Linked DNA regions of Homo sapiens: region 1 is linked to region 2. The links come from fine-mapping of genetic effects on gene expression. Tissue or cell type: fibroblasts. Region 2 holds a variant in brackets; the other region holds the start of a gene. All regions are shown on one strand. Distances are from middle to middle.

What was found. PIP is the estimated chance that this variant, and not a neighbour inherited with it, causes the effect.
Region 1: NQO1 starts here. The variant in region 2 is fine-mapped to the expression of NQO1 in fibroblasts (GTEx, PIP above 0.99). The same link has a PIP of 0.9 or more in aorta, breast, esophagus mucosa, esophagus muscle, lung and sigmoid colon.

What each region holds. Positions count from the first base shown.
Region 1 is chr16:69,723,201-69,731,304 of GRCh38, forward strand. It overlaps NQO1 (NAD(P)H quinone dehydrogenase 1), which reads right to left and starts at 3,360. Exons shown (of 6, transcript NM_000903.3): 1 at 3,233-3,360. The coding sequence starts at 3,239. It overlaps NQO1-DT (NQO1 divergent transcript), which reads left to right and starts at 3,527. Exons shown (of 2, transcript NR_186363.1): 1 at 3,527-3,975. RefSeq lists enhancers at 2,843-3,835, 2,922-4,121, 3,368-3,627, 3,836-4,829.
Region 2 is chr16:69,795,189-69,803,292 of GRCh38, forward strand. It overlaps WWP2 (WW domain containing E3 ubiquitin protein ligase 2), which reads left to right. Exons shown (of 24, transcript NM_001270454.2): 3 at 3,494-3,641; 4 at 3,986-4,107. Among named protein-coding and RNA genes, the nearest start is that of WWP2, 37 kb to the left of the region's middle. The variant G/A (reference allele first, on the strand shown) is at 3,879.

The sequences.
Region 1 (8,104 bases), 72 kb before region 2:
GCGTGAGCCACAGCGCCCAGCCAACAGTTTTTATTTTATTGACTTCTCATCAATGTTAACAAGCATTTTCTAAGTAGTAAGACAGTCAAGGCACTTCTCAGAAAATGAGCAAATCAGGATATCCATCTCTTGCTCTTTCAAGGAGCTCAGACTCTAATAGCTATAAGCAGGCCTGTGACTTTACAATTTTTCATGTAAGGCAACACACAAGCAGGAATAATATATTTGCAACAAATATAACCATCAAAGTGCAGTACCTGGAATAGGTAGATCCCCAAAACAACTCAAAAGAAAAATGATCAAAAGAAGGTTGTGGGTGGGTCGCGGTGGCTCACACCTGTAATCTCAGCACTTTGGGAGGCTGAGGCGGGCAGATCACCTCATGTCAGGAGTTAGAGACCAGCCTGGTTAACATGGTGAAACCCCGTCTCTACTAAAAATACAAAAAAAAATTAACCAGGTGTAGTGGCAGGTGCCTGTAATCCCAGCTAATCGGGAGGCTGAGGCAGGAGAATTGCTTGAATCCAGGAGGCGGAGGTTGCAATGAGCCGAGATCGCACCATTGCACTCCAGCCTGCGCAACAGAGCAAGCCTCTGTCTCAAACAAACAAACAAAAAGATGCTTGTGAATAGGCAATTTAAAAGTTTTCTGGGCCCTGGAGGGTTCATTTTCCCTTCCTGCCACTTAACTAGCTGAGCAACATGACCTGGGAGGAGTTAGACTATTAGAGTTTACCCTGAGAGAGGCCACAAGATGCACACACGGATAACCTCTTCAGGGTACAATGGCATTAGTGTGTTAGGAGAGGTAAGGGACAAAGTTCAACAGAAGGCTGGGTGTGGTGGCTCATGCCTGTAATCGTAGCACTTTGGGAGACCGAGGCGGGTGGATTACTTGAGGTCAGGAGCTAGAGACCAGCCTGGCCAACATGGTGAAACCCCGTCTCTACTAAAAATACACAATTAGCTGGGCGTGGTGGTGGGCGCCTGTAATCCCAGCTACTTGGGAGGCTGCAGCACAAGAATCGTTTGAACCTGGGAAGTGGAGATTGCAATGAGCCAAGATCACGCCACTGCACTACAGCCTGGGCAACAGAGTGAGTGAGACTCCATCTCAAAAAGTTCAACAGAGGAAAACTTCAGGACCTCAGGGCTGGCCCATTCGGAAAGGCCCTCAGAGGAGCTTGCCATTTGAGCTGAATCTTGGTCTTGAACTCCTGGCCTCAAGCAGTCCTCCCGCCTCAGCCTCCCAAAAGTGCTGGGATTACAGGAATGAGCCACCACTCCCAGCCAAAATTTTTTTTTTTTTTAATTAGCTGGGTTTCAAGTTCTTCTGCTCTGACCAAAAAAAATTAGCTGGGTGTGGTGGCACACACCTGTAGTCCCAGCTACTCGGGGGCAAAGATGGGACAATCACTTGAGCCCAGGAGGTCAAGGCTGAAGTGAGCCCTGATCATGCCACTGCACTCCAGCCTGGGCAACAAAGCAAGACCCTGTCTCAAAAAGAAAAAAAGAAGTATGATAAAGATAAGCCTTTGTATCAGTTTCATGCATTCTCCTTCTGCCTTCTCTTCTCACTTGAGTGCTCCAGGGAACATGAGTGCAAATCAGATGCATCTATTAGTTGCAAACAAAAAACCTGGATGCTTTAGTTAACCTCAAGATTTGGTTAGCTGGGTACAGCTAAAACTAATTATACAAGATCCAAGTCTTCCCTTTTCACCTCATTACCACCGCCCTTTTTTGTGTTTAAGCTACACGTAAATACAGAACATTCTGTAAGATTGAAAAGTCAGGAAATAGTTCCTGCCCTAGTATTGGAGGAGAGGGTGCCAGTGCCTCGACGCTGAAGAATGAAATACAAGGGAAACAGCAACCACCGTGTATGCGGCAAGCCTCTCAGCTGTCAGAATCTATTCCCTGCTGTCTCTGCCAGTAACTCATGCTGGGCTACCAATCCCCAGCTTAGTCCCTTTCTCAGAGATCCTGATAATTTCAGTTTGTCAACTGCAAGGGCAGTCTGTTCCTCCACTCACTTTGACCAAGATGGGCTTCTTTGTGTACAGGCGCATTTTTAGAGGCAGGACCAGGTCCACAGGGAAGGAAATTACAAAACACAGGATTCTGCCCCAGATGAGGCAACAGCTTTCTAAATCTTAGTACTGTCCAATCTCAGAGTGAGATTATTTGGGAAACAGCTCTCAATCCCTGCAGTTGTCTCAGCTGGTTATTTATGCCTTGGGTGGAGCTGGGGTGACCTCTGAGTTCCCCTAGGGTCGATGGCCGAGTGGGAAGGCTCTATCACTGAAGTGGACCCAATACTAGAAACGGATCCAGTACGATCTGATCAGGTTTGCCTAATCCAAGGGCCTCAATGGAAAATGCCTCCCAAGGCCAGGCACGGTGGCTCACGTCAGTAATCTCAGCACTTGGGGAGGCTGAGGTGGGTGGATCACCTGAGGTCAGGAGTTCAAGACCGCGCTGGCCAACTTGGCGAAACCCGTCTGTACTAAAAATATAAAAATTAGCCGCGCATGATGGCGCACTCCTGTAATCCCAGCTACTCGGGAGGCTGAGATGGGAGAATCGCTTGAACCCGGGAGGCGGAAGTTTCGCTGAGCTGAGATAGCGCCATTGCACTACAGCCTGGGCGACAAGAGCAAAACTCCGTCTCAAACAAAACAAAACAAAACAAAACAAAACAAAACCTGTGCCTGGCAGCCTGGAGCCGGTTCTGGTCTCCGTCAAACCAAAGGCATCAGTTTCCTCCACTCCTGTCCACCAATCGCCAGATATTCTCATTTTCTTCAGAAGCTCGGAATCCACATTTTTAAGTGAAATCACCCATTTTAATGTTAGCAACTTATTTCAAAGTGTTTTAGATACTATAGACCAAAAGAGGTATGGGCTGTGACCGTAAGCCTGATTTGGCCTCTGACGGCCAGTTTCTGACCACAGTTTTGGAGGGAATTTCTGCTTCCAAGGTCAAGTTTCTCCTAAATGCCCACTAGAGTTCGTGGGGTGGAGTGAGGAAGGATCCGCGACACCGGATACAAACAGAAGCTCTCCTTCTCCCGGAGTCCGATCAAGGCTCATCCCAGGTCCCTAATCTCTTCCCTTTGTGGGTTTTGAGTCAAGGAACAAAATTCAGGGCCAAGCCCCTACAACCTCCTCCACAGGCACCAGTGCTCGAGAGACGACCGCCAAGCACCCCGCCCTTTGCAGCACTCACCGACCATGGCTCTGGTGCAGTCCGGGGCGCTGATTGGCTGGGCTCGTGGTTGCCGGGGCGACCCTGGCCGGAACTAGGCTCTCGGTGAGCTGGGCGGCTCCGGCTGCAACCTTGTGGGAGTCGCGTGTGTAGTGCACGGTGCATTCTCTCTTATATATCCTGTCCGGCCCGTTTGAGGTGGACAGCCTACAAGGGCGGGACCCAACGCCTGAATCCTGGGGTGCTGGGCGGAGGATGCTGAGGCTGCAGCTCCAGGAAGGGAGGGAGCCTGGGGGATGAAGGAGGGGCCTCTCCACTCTCACCCGCCGGAGCAACTGGTGGAAGTCAAGAAAAGTCTCTCGGGGCTGGGGGAGGGGATTGTAGGGGTGTGTGTGACAGAGGCCTCAAAAATCTGGCTGGGGGTGCTAAGGCAAGCCCATCTGCGCACTGTGCCCTGAGGTGCAAGAGGATGCAGGGTGGAAGTCGTCCCAAGAGAGTCCAGGGATCAAGTGGGCATGCCCTTTTAGCCTTGGCACGAAATGGAGCAGAAAAAGAGCCGGATGCGGATTACTGTGGTGCCCTAGGCTCAGATTCTGCTGAGTCACTGTGACTGCGGATTTGGAAGGCTGAGAGTCCTGGGGAGACATGCTCCGTGGAGACGAATTTGTTTCTTCCTTTGCAAGATTCAGATTCTGCACTTGGGGGCCCATACAACACACTTCCCTGGGTGCATGCCACTGCACCACCCCTGCTCCTCAAGGCAGGTAATGGGGGAACTAATTGGTTTTGTTTCCCATGAGCTAAGGCAAGGCTGGTGTGGAGATAGCAGTTATAGGGAAGCATATTAAAGAATAGCCAAAACGGGACCAGGCGCGGTGGCTCACGCCTGTAATCCCAGCAATATGGGAGGCCGAGGTGGGTGGATCACCTGAGGTCAGGAGTTCGAGACCAGCCTGGCCAACCTGGTGAAGCCCCGTCTGTACTGAAAAATTAGCTGGGCGTGATGGCGGGCGCCTGTAAGTCCCAGCTACTCGGGAGGCTGAGGCAGGAGAATCGCTTGAACCCGGAAGGCGGAGGTTGCAGTGGGTCGAGATCGTGCCACTGCACTCCCGCCTGGGTGACGAAGTGAGACTCCGTCTCAAAAAAAACTCTATAAAGTAAAAGTTACTGTAAAGAAGGAGATATACTCTCAGTAGGTGAAGGAAAAAGAACTAGAGCTTTAAAGTGGTAATTAACCATCAGAAGAATCACAGATGGGGGAGGTGAGGATGACACAGGGCCCTTCCGTTGTCCCTCCAGTGCAAAAGTTAAGGAGGCACCAGAAAACTGGTTTCCAACTCCCGACCTCAGGTGATCCTACCGCCTCGGCCTCCCGAAGTGCTGGGATTACAGGCATGAGCCACCGCGCCCGGCCCCATCGTGACATTTTTGCATTCATTTTGATGCAACAAGAGAGGACTATATTATTTACACGTATTTACAAATTACTTTGGGAGGCTGAGGCAGGAGGATCACTTGAGCCCAAGAGTTTGAGAAAAGCCTGAGCAACAAAGTGAGACCCCATCTGACAAAATAGTATAAAAGGACGTTTTAAAAAAGGGCTAGGTAGGCAGCCCTGTCCAATAGAACTTTCCCTATCTGTGCTGCCCAAGTAAGGTAGCCACAAGCTTCAAGTAGCTATTGAGCACTGGAAATGTGGCCAGCAGCCAGGCGTGGTGGCAGGCGCCTGTGTCCCAGCTACTCAGGATCTGAGGCAAAAAGATCGCTTGAGCCCAGGAATTCAAGGCCGCAGTGGTGGACTCAATAAAAGAAAAAAAATGGAAATTAAAAAAAAAAAAGTGGCCAGTGGACTGAGGAAGTGAAGTTTTAATTGTAATTAAATTAATTTTTTAAAAATTTATTTTTTGAGGCGGGGTTTCACTGTGTCGCCCAGGCTGGAGTGCAGTGGCAGGATCTTGGCTCACTGCAATCTCCATCTCCTGGGTTTAAGCAATTCTTGTGCCTCAGCTTCCTGAGTAGCTAGGACTACGGGCATGCACCACCACAGTCAGCCACTTTTTGTATTATTCGTAGAGATGAGTTTCACCATGTTAGCCAGGCTGGTCTCAAACTCCTGACCTCAGGTGATCTGCCCACCTCGGCCTCCCAAAGTGCTAGGATTACAGGCATGTGCCACTGCGCCTGGCTTTAATTAAATTTAGATAGCCACATGTCACTAGTGTTTGGAAAGACCTGAGCTGGTTCAGATCGAGGCCGCAGTGTGCTGGCTATTCTATCTCTCACTCTTCTAGTGAGATTGTTTTCTCAATCACCAGTCTCCCTGACCCATCCAGAGGTGGGGCTCAAAGCCACAAAGCTCAAGTGTCGTGTTCGGTCGTTGGTTTCCAGCATGGCCAGTTCCCATCCTCAGTCATCTTGTTAACATGAACTATATAGGGGCCCATCCCAAGTCATCTCATTAGCATAAACCATCAGGAGTGGTCTGAGAAGCCCACAATGAATAAGATGGACACTCCTATCATTTGGGATTTAGGGGCTCAGGGGCATGATGATAGTTCACTGCAGCCTCGACCTTCTGGAGTCAAGCAATCCTCCTGCCCCAGCCTCCTGAGTAGCTGAGATGACAGGTGCATGCCACCGTGCCTGGCTAATTTTTTTTTATTTTTTTGGTAGAGATAGGGTCTCACTATGTTGCCCAAGCTGGTCTCAAACTCCTGGGCTCATGTGATCCTCCCGCTTTGATCTCCCAAAGTGCTGGAGTTACAGGTATGTGCCACCACTCCTGGCCAAATTTGTTACTACACAGTGGTAAAGACAGACATTTGAGGTGGCAGTGAACCAAGATCATGCCACTGCACTCCAGCCTGGGCAACAGAGGGAGATCCTGTCTCAAAAGAAAAAAAGAAACTTACTGGCCGGGCACAGTGGCTCAGGCCTGTAATCCCAGCACTTTGGGAGACTGAAGCGGGTGGATCACTTGAGCTCAGGAATTGGAGACCAGCCTGGCCAATGTGGTGAAACCCCGTCTCCACTAAAAATACAAAAACATGAGCTGGGTGTGGTGGTGGGCGCCTCCAGTCCCAGCTACTCGGGAGGCTGAGGCACGAGAATCGCTTGAATTCAGGAGGCAGAGGTTGCAGTGAGCTGAGATTGTGCCACTGCACTCCAGCCTGGGCAACAAGAGCGAGACTCCATCTCAAGAAAAAAAGAAAAAGAAAAAGCTGCTGTGGAGCATGGGCGAGCACTGCTGCCTGGACAAAGACCGAGGGTCCTCGGGAGGGCAGTACTGATGTACAGGTTTCCAGCAGGTCGGCGTGTGTGTTCTCTCCTGCAGGTCTGCAGCCAGGCGTGCCAGGAGAGGGGGAGTCTGAGGGATTGATGTAGGTTGGGAAAGCATGATGAGAGGAGACAGAGTGGGGGCTGTGAAGAAGAGAGCGACTTGATGGTGGCGGTAGTTACACAGATGTATGTATTTATTAAAATCCGCTGAAAAGTACATTTTAAATACAAGCATTTTATTGTATGCATGTTATTCCTCAACAAAGTCCATTTTTAAAAAGTAGAGTGGTTGGAGTGATGACGAACATTATGAAAGGGCTTATTGGCAGAGAAAAAGTAGAGGGGTCCAGAGACTCAAGTTCCTAACGAGGCTGAAGTAAGAGTGGGGGATTAAATAAGGGCAAAAACTGAGAGAATAAAAAAAGTGGGTTGTTTGGGGCCAGGTGCGGTGGCTTATACCTGTAATCCCAGCACTTTGGGAGGCCAAGGCAGGGGGATCGCTTGAGCCCAGGAGTTCAAGACCAGCCTGGGCAACATAGTGAGACCCCCCCGCAACCCCCCCCACCTCTGCCATCTCTAAAAAAATTAAAAATTAGCTAGGTGTGGTGGTGTGCACCTGTGGATCCAGCTACTAAGGAGGCTGAGATGGGTGGATCATCTGAGCCTGGGAAGTCGACGCTATAGTGAGCTGTGACTGTACCACTGCACTCCAACCTAGGCAGCACAGTGACACCCTATCTAAAAACAAAAAGAAAAAACAAAAACCCAAGTGGGTTGATTGGGAAACACAGGAGATAGAAGTTAAAATCATGGGGAAACATCAGTCAAATCACAGTGTGGGACATTCTACAGGACAACCAACCTGGTTTATCCCATAATTCAGTGCTATAAGAAAAATGAAGGAGTGTATATTGATCAGGATTTTCCAGAGAAACAGAACCAATTGAATTTCTATAAATATATAAAAAGCAATATATTGCTGGGTGCAGGGCTCACACCTTGTGATGGTTAATAATGAGTGTCAACTTGATTGGATTGAAGGATGCAAAGTATTGATCCTGGGTGTGTCTGTGAGGGCGTTACCAAAGGAGGTGAACATTTGAGTCAGTGGGACTGGGAAGGGCGGACCCATCCTCAATCTGGGTGGGCACCAACTAATCAGCTGCCAGTGCGGCCAGAATATAAAGCAGGCAGAAAAACGTGAAAAGACTAGACTAGGCCTGGTGCCGTGGCTCACGCCTGTAATCCCAGCACTTTGGGAGGCCGAGACGGGTGGATCACTTGAAGTCAGGAGTTCAAGACCAGCCTGGCCAATATGGCAAAACTCATCTCTGCTAAAAATACAAAAAAATTTAGCTGGGTGTTGTGGTGCATGCCTATAATGCCAGCTACTCAGGAGGCTGAGGCAGGAGAATAGCTTGAACCCAGGAAGCAGAGGTTGCGGTGAGCCGAGATCACACCGCTGTACTCCAACCTGGGTGACAGAGACTCACCTCACCAAAAAAAAAAAAAAAAATAAGTGGGGCTAGACTGGCCTAGCCTCCCAGTCTACATCTTTCTTCTGTGCTGGATGTTTCCTGCCCTCCAACATCAGACTCCAAGTTCTTCAGCTTT
Region 2 (8,104 bases):
TCGTGCCACTGCACTCCAGCCGGTCTACAACTTACTTTTTAATGGTTTTACCTAGGAAAAAAAATGCGGATACACACACACACACACACACACACACACACACACATACACAGAGACATAGATGGCATTTATCTATAACCTTTGGTGTCCAATAGAATAGTCACTGTAGCCACATAGAACTGTTTACACTTAAATTACAATTATATAACATTTAAAAATCATATCCTTATTTGCACTAGCCATATTTCAAGTGTCAATAGCCACATGTGTCTCATGGCAATGTATTGGGCAGCACAGATGTGGAACATTTTCGTCATCATGGAAGTTCTCTTGGGTAGTGATGCTATAGACACATAGAACAGAAAGCAAATGTGGCAAAATGATAACAATTGGTGAAGAGTATACAGTATTTATTGTTCTATTTCAATTTTTCTATAGATTGGAAACTTAAAAATAGGAGGTTTTTTTTTTTTTTTTTTTTTTTTTTGTGAGAGTCTCTCTCCATCACCCAGGCTGGAGTGTGGTCTCAGCTCACTGTAGCCTCCGCCTCCTGGGTTCAAACAGTTCTCATGCCTCAGCCTCCTGAGTAGCTGGGACTACTGTTGTGCCCCACCACGCCCAGCTAGTTTTTGTATTTTTGGTAGAGACAGGGTTTAGCCATGTTGCCCAGGCTGGTCTCAAACTCCTGGCCTCAAGTGATCTGCCTGCCTCGGCCTCCCAAAGAGCTGGGATTACAGGCGTGAGCCACCATGCCCTGCTTCAAAATAAGAGTACTAAATGCCAGTATGATCCTAGATTGGGGCCTGGACCAGAACAAATTTTTTTTTCTTTCTTTTTTTTTTTGCGATGATGGGCATCGATAGGACAATTGGCAAAATACGAATAAAGTCTGTAAATTAAATATTAGTATTATAAAAAGTTAAATGTCCTGATTTTGATAATTGTGCTATTGGTTATGTTAAAAAATGTGTTTGTTGGGAAATACACCCAGAAATATTTAGGAGTAAAGGGGCACAATGTCTAGAGCTTACTCTCAGAGTTTCAGGAAAAAGTGTGTATGTGTATGAGCGCAGATACTTCTCAACTTACAGTGGGGTTACGTCCTGAAAAACCCATCATAAGTTGAACATATCGCAAGTTGAAAATGCATCTGATACTCCTAATCTGCCGAGCATCATAGCTTAGCCTAGCCTACCTTAAATGTGCTCAGGACACTTCGATATCCCGCAGCTAGGCAAGATCATCTGGTGAAGGGGTACACGGCAGAGTATCAATTGTTTGCCCCTGTGATCACGTGGCTGACTGGTGTTGCGGCTCACTGCCGCTGCCCAGTAGTACCGCATATGACTATTCTGCGAAAAGACCAAAATTCAAAATTTAAAATACAGTTTTTACTGAATGCATATCGCTTTCGCACCCCTGTAAAGTCAAACGTCCTAAGTAATGCACCATTTGTAGTCCCTATTTTTTAAAGGCATGTAGATTCATGCTCTTACCACCAGGTGGCCTCAGTTAACCTTGGTCCGTGTGTAAATCACTGCACCTCATTTTTCTACCCTGGGCCATGCCTCAGTACCACAAACCTTTGTCCCTAGTACTGTTCCCTTGTCGCTTCTGAATCTTAGCCACAGCTGATTTTTTATCTGTTGTCTTCCTCCCTTCTGTTCCTTTGGGGCCAGAGGAAGATAGTTACTGCTATAAAAAATCTGAAGGTGAATTTGGCCTTTGCCAAGTTGTAGACACCATTGTAGGACTGTCACCTTTCAGAAGAGTCTGGGAGGGAGGGATTTGCTTATACTCAAACAGGGAAGCTCAGGCTAGGATAGACTTGCCATTACAGGCAAGGGAGCATCAGTTGTATCTCTGATTTGGGGCAGGATGGGAGACGTCTAGATGTGTTTTACCCTAGCGACCTGGCGTTTCCACCAGGGGTAATATACACTAGGATGTCTGTCTAGCTCCTCGGTGTGATGCTTGTGTAGCTTTGTACTCCATGAGTCTTTGGCTTGCTGGTCCCAAACGAACATCAGAATTGTTGCCACATGAAGGCTATGAGCGGAAGAAGAAATGTAGATGACTAACGACACATGGCAAAAATATTCAACCTTGCTGGTAATCGAAGAACAGCAATAGAACAAATAAGTAAAGTTCAATAATAATATGCAGCATGATGTGGAATCAGACCGGCCGGGTGCACAGTCTGGCTTGTAGCTCCCTGGCTATGTAGAGTGGGAGAGTGACCTTGCCTCTCAAGCCTGTTTTCTCCTGGGTAAAATGGGGTGATGATATATTCCCTGCCTCATGGGTTTGTTGTGAGGATTCAGTTAGAAAATGTATGCACATGGCAGAGGGTCTTTAATAAGTACTCATAAAATCTTAAATATTATCTTTATTTATTTCAGTTAAAATTTATAAATTGGCCAGGTGCGGTGGCTCACGCCTGTAATCCCAGCACTTTGGGAGGCCAAGGTAGGCAGATCATCTGAGGTCAGGAGTTTGAGACCAGCCTGGCCAACATGGTGAAACCCTGTCTCTACTAAAAATACAAAAATTAGCCAGGCACGGTGGCGGGCGCCTGTAATCCCAGCTACTCAGGAGGCTAAGGCAGGAGAATTGCTTAACCTGGGAGGCAGAGGTTGCAGTGAGCCGAGATTGTGGCATTACACTCCAGCCTGGGCAACAAGAGCCAAACTCTATCTCAGAAAAAAAAAAAAAATTATAAATTTTGTTATGTTCCCAGGCTGGTCTTGAACTCCTGGGCTGAAGCAGCCCTCCCACCTTGGCCTCCCAAAGTGCTGGGATTCCAGGCATGAGCCGCCACGCCCGGCCTTAGCTGTTGTCTTTACACCATGCGTTTTTAACCCATGGATTTGCAAAAAGTGAACAAGCATATCCCTTAGCACTCTGTGATGTCTGGTAAAATGAATATTCTCCTGTAGCACTGATGGGAGGCTACATGGGTTTACCTTTCTTGGAAAGGAATGGGCAGTTTTAAGAACTTTAAAAAGTGTTCGTATCCTTTGGAGGAATACTCAAGAAAGGCATGCAGATGTATATGTTCACGGTAATTTCCCCAGAGCGAACAATTGCAAGCAGTCTATTCGACAATGAAAGAATAGTTAACATATACCTATTATGGGCTTGTATTGCAGTCATTTAAGAGTGACTTATGGGGGTGAAGAATTTTTAAAGAATTGAATAAATAAAAGATGAAAATCTGGAAGGCAATTTACCAACGATAAATTGGTGATGATGATCACTGGCAGTTATCCCAGTGGTTTCAGGTTAGGGATTTTTTTTTTTTTTTTACACTTCATATTTTTTTTGGTGTGTGTACTCACATTTCTTTAAAAAGTTTTTAGAATCAAGACAAAACAAAATGTATTGATTTATTTTTTAAAGCAATAACTAAAAAGAGCCGGAACATCTGCCACAGGGGGGCATCTGGGAGCCCTGGGACTCATCTTTGACTTTTTCTTTCTTTCTCTCCCAGTGGTGTCCGCAAAGCCCAAGGTGCATAATCGTCAACCTCGAATTAACTCCTACGTGGAGGTGGCGGTGGATGGACTCCCCAGTGAGACCAAGAAGACTGGGAAGCGCATTGGGAGCTCTGAGCTTCTCTGGAATGAGATCATCATTTTGTAAGAGAAAGCCCCTTCTTTTTGAACGCAGCAAGATGGGGAAAGAGAGAGGGTGCTCCGAGGGGGTTGTGGGAGGTACAGATTCCCTGTGGCACCTCCGACTTTTTCTACCTATGGTACCCAAGGTGACTCTTTTTAGGTGTTCCTACACCATTGAGCTCATAGAGCGTTCATTATTATCTAGAGGGTTACAGGGTCAGCTTTGAGAGGGGAAAGGATATATGTGGGTGTCTGCCT[G/A]TTTTGGTTCCCCCTCCCCAAGATGTCAGCAGTTTAGTTTAAATGTTTTCTTCTAAGTTATAGGAATGATCTGCTTGGATGTAATGAATCAGGTATTTGTTTTTCAGGAATGTCACGGCACAGAGTCATTTAGATTTAAAGGTCTGGAGCTGCCATACCTTGAGAAATGAACTGCTAGGCACCGCATCTGTCAACCTCTCCAACGTCTTGAAGAACAATGGGGGCAAAAGTACGTATGATGAAGGGGGTGCCGACGTGATTCTTGGGTGGGGATGGGAGGACCTGGCAGATCAACCTGGTATTGCAATTTCCCCCAGGACTAGGGGCTGCAGTACCTCTGTTCTCCTTGGATGCTGTCTTTGGAGTTTTGGGAAGGCTGAGGGCTCCTCTCTGCCTCCACTACAGAGTTTAGCCCTCTTTGTCCAGGGCCTCTAGTAATGTGATGCAGTGGTGTGTTGCCCTTTATCCTTCCTTAGGGACTGGAAACTTTCTGTCTGCCTCTGCTCCTCTTCCCGTTGCAGGAGATGTGTGATATGTTGAATGAAACTGTCAAATACCTCTAGCCTAAATCATTGCTTTTCTAGCCTCAGCCCTAAAACAGAACAAAGGAGCTGTGTGTATACGTATATGTGTGTGTGTGCATGCCTGTGTGCATGTGTGCACGTGTGTGTCTGGGATAGTATTACAAATAGTGCCCTGTGCTTACTCGGCACTCAGTAAACATTTACTGGATGTTGGAACGTGATGGACGCGCCATCTGAATTAGCCAACGTGCCTCTACGTCACGGACATATAAATCCTCATCTATTTATTGCTGTTTGTGGTCAGTGGCATGGCCCATGGCGGTGGTATTGGACCCTCCTTCATAAGGCCTCTATTCAGAGCAGTACCATATGTGGCGAATGAATGGCATGGAAAGAAAGGCTCCTTTTTCTCTTGATATCTGGAAAGTATTTTCTGAAAGTGGATGTAGCTTAAGAGAGAGGTGGGGGCGGGGAGAGTTGCGTCCCAGCGAGCGTGTTACATGATTTAAGAGTCTTTCTTTTCTCTCCAAGCCTGTCCTTTTAAGCGATGGGCCACTTGAAAGGTCTTTGAGCCTCCTCTGGTCTTTTCTTTTCGGCTGGGCACATAGAGATGTGCTGAACCCACACTGGCCCGAGGAATTGTTTAAAACCAGAGATGTGCCTCCACTTTAATCCTGCAGAGAACTCCCTGATTGCTTTGTCTTCTGAATTGGTGTTTATTTTCCCAAACCCTAGCCAGCCTTTTGTAATTTGATCATCAGGGAGAATTCTATTTATTGCAATATTTGGAAATATACTTGTGGATAGCCTCACATTAGGATGCAGCAACCAGCATGAGGGTCCTTTTTTCCTCTTCATTTGCCCAGCCAATATACTTTTGCTTTTGGTTAGCAAAAGTCCTTGTAGAAATTGTAAATTACAGAAAGAAAACAAAATTTGCCCCTAAGCACAGCACCTAGTAATAGTTATTGTTTTTTCTTTTTTTTTTTTTTGAGATGGAGTCTTACTCTGTTGCCCAGGCTGGAGTGTAGTGGTGCAATCTCGGCTCACTGCAACCTCCGCCTCCCAGGTTCAAGCGATCCTACCACCTCAGCCTCCCAAGTAGCTGGGATTACAGGCATGTGCCACCATTCCCAGCTAATTTTTGTATTTTTAGTAGACATGAGGTTTCACTGTGTTGGTCAGGCTGGTCTTGAACTCCTGACCTCAGGTGATCTGCCCGCCTCATCCTCCCAAAGTGTTGGGATTACAGGCGTGAGCCACTGCACCCAGCCTGATAGTTATTCTTAATGTTTTTTTAAAAGCAATTTTATGGCCGGGGGTGGTAGCTCACGCCTGTAATCCCAGTACTTTGGGAGGCTGAGGCGGGTGGATCACCTGAGGTCAGGAGTTCGTGACCAGCCTGGCCAATATGGCGAAACCCTGTTTCTACTAAGAAAAATACAACAATTACCCAGGGATGGTGGTGGGCGCCTGTAATCCCGGCTACTCAGGACGCTGAGACAGAAGAATCGCTTGAACCCGGGAGGTGGAGGTTCCAGTGAGCCGAGATTGCGCCACTGCACTCCAGCCTGGGTGACAGAGCAAGTCTTAAAAAAAAAAAAAAAGCAATTTTACTTTAATTAATTAATTTTTATTTTTATATATATATATTTTTTGAGACAGGTTTCTCACTTTGTCACTCAGGCTGGAGTGCAGTGGTGCAATCTCGGCTCACCGTAGCCTCTGCTCCTGGGCTCAAGTGATCCTCCCACCTCAGCCCCCACCCCTAGTAGCTGGGACTACAGGCACACGCCACCATGGCCTGGCTGTATTTCATATTTTTAGTAGAGAGTAGGTCTCACTATGTTGCCAGGATGGTCTGGAACTCCTGAGCTCAAGTGATCCGCCTGCCTTGGCCTTCCAAAGTGCTGGGATTACAGATGCGAGCCACTGCGTCTGGCCAATTAATTAATTTTTAGATTGAGATGGGATCTCCCTATATTGCTCAGGCTGGAGTGTAGTGGCTATTTATAGGCACGATCACAGCTCACTGTAGCCTCAAACTCCCAGCCTCAAGCCATCTCCTGCCTCAGCCTCCGGAATAGCTGGAACCACAGGCGTGCACCACTATACCTGACTACTGTTAACATTTTGATGTATACATTTTTGAGCTTTTAAATTTTATCTTTTAAATAATTTTTTCCCCTCAGATCCTTGTTCTGATCTTTTTTTATATTTGTAGACGTATATTGATGTTTATGACATCAATGAAACTAAATTGAGATTATACATGAACATATTATTTTGCAATATGCCTTTTTCTCTTTAAAAATGTATCAATATATATTTATTTTTATTTATTTATTTTTTTTTCTGAGACGGAGTCTTGCCCTGTTGCCCAGGCTGGAGTGCAGTGGCGCGATCTTGGCTCACCACAACCTTTGCCTTCTGGGTTCAAGCGATTCTCCTGCCTCAGCCTCCCGAGTAGCTGGGACTACAGGCACCCACCACCATGCCCGGCTAATTTTTGTATTTTTAACAGAGACAGGGTTTCACTATGTTGGCCAGGCTGGTCTCGATCTCCTGACCTCGTGATCTGCCCGCCTCGGCCTCCCAAAGTGCTGGATTACAGGCATGAGCCACCGTGCCTGGCCTATATTTATTTTTAGTTGTGATAAAATACACATGATGTAAAATTAATCACGTTAATAATTTTTAGGTGTATAGGTTAGTGGTGTTAAGTACATTCACCTTGTACAACCATCACCACCATCTATCCCCAGAACTCTTTTCACCTTGCAAAACTGAAATTCTGTCCCATTAAACCATGACTCCCCCATCCTCCCCTCGCACCAGCACCTGGCAGCTACCGCTCTACTTTCTGCTTCTGTGAATTTGGCTTTTCCAGGTAGCTTATGTTAGTGGAACCATACAGTATTTGTCCTTTTATGACTGGCTTATTTCAGTCAGCATAATGTCCTCAAGGCTTATTCATGTTGTAACATGCGTCAGAAGATTTTTCTTTCCTTTTGTTTTTTTTTTTTTTGAGACAGGGTCTCGCACTGTCGCTCAGGCTGGAGTGCAGTGGCGCGATCTCGGCTCACTGCAACCCCTGTCTCCTGGGTTCAAGTGATTCTCCTGCCTCAAGCTTCCAAGTAGCTAGGATTATGACAGGTACCTGCCACCATGCCCAGCTAATTTTTTTATTTTTAGTAGAGACGGGAGTTTCACCATGTTGGCCAGGCTGGTCTCGAACTCCTGACCTCAAGTGATCTGCCCACCTTGGCCTTCCAAAGTGCTGGGATTACAGGCATAAACCACCGCATCTGGCCCAAGATATCTTATTATGTATGTGCAAATATACCAAAATCTGAAAAAATCTGAAATCCAAAACACTTCCAGTCCCAAGCATTTCAAATAAATACTTATGAGACCTGTACAATTTACCTTCCCATCAGCAGTGGCTGAAATTTCTGGTTTGTATTGTACCTTGGCATATATTGGATATTACTTGTAAAAAAAAAAAGCCTTTTTTTTTCCTATTTGATAACTATTAACATTATGATGGATTTGCTTTTCCTGTTTCTTTTTGGCTGAATTATTTTTATTTTCTTATTTTTTACTTTTTTGCTCTGATCTCCTGGCCTCTCAATAAGAAGTATTTTAAAGTATATTCTAGACGTCCTGACATTTTATCCTAGATTCTTCAGCATGCATCTT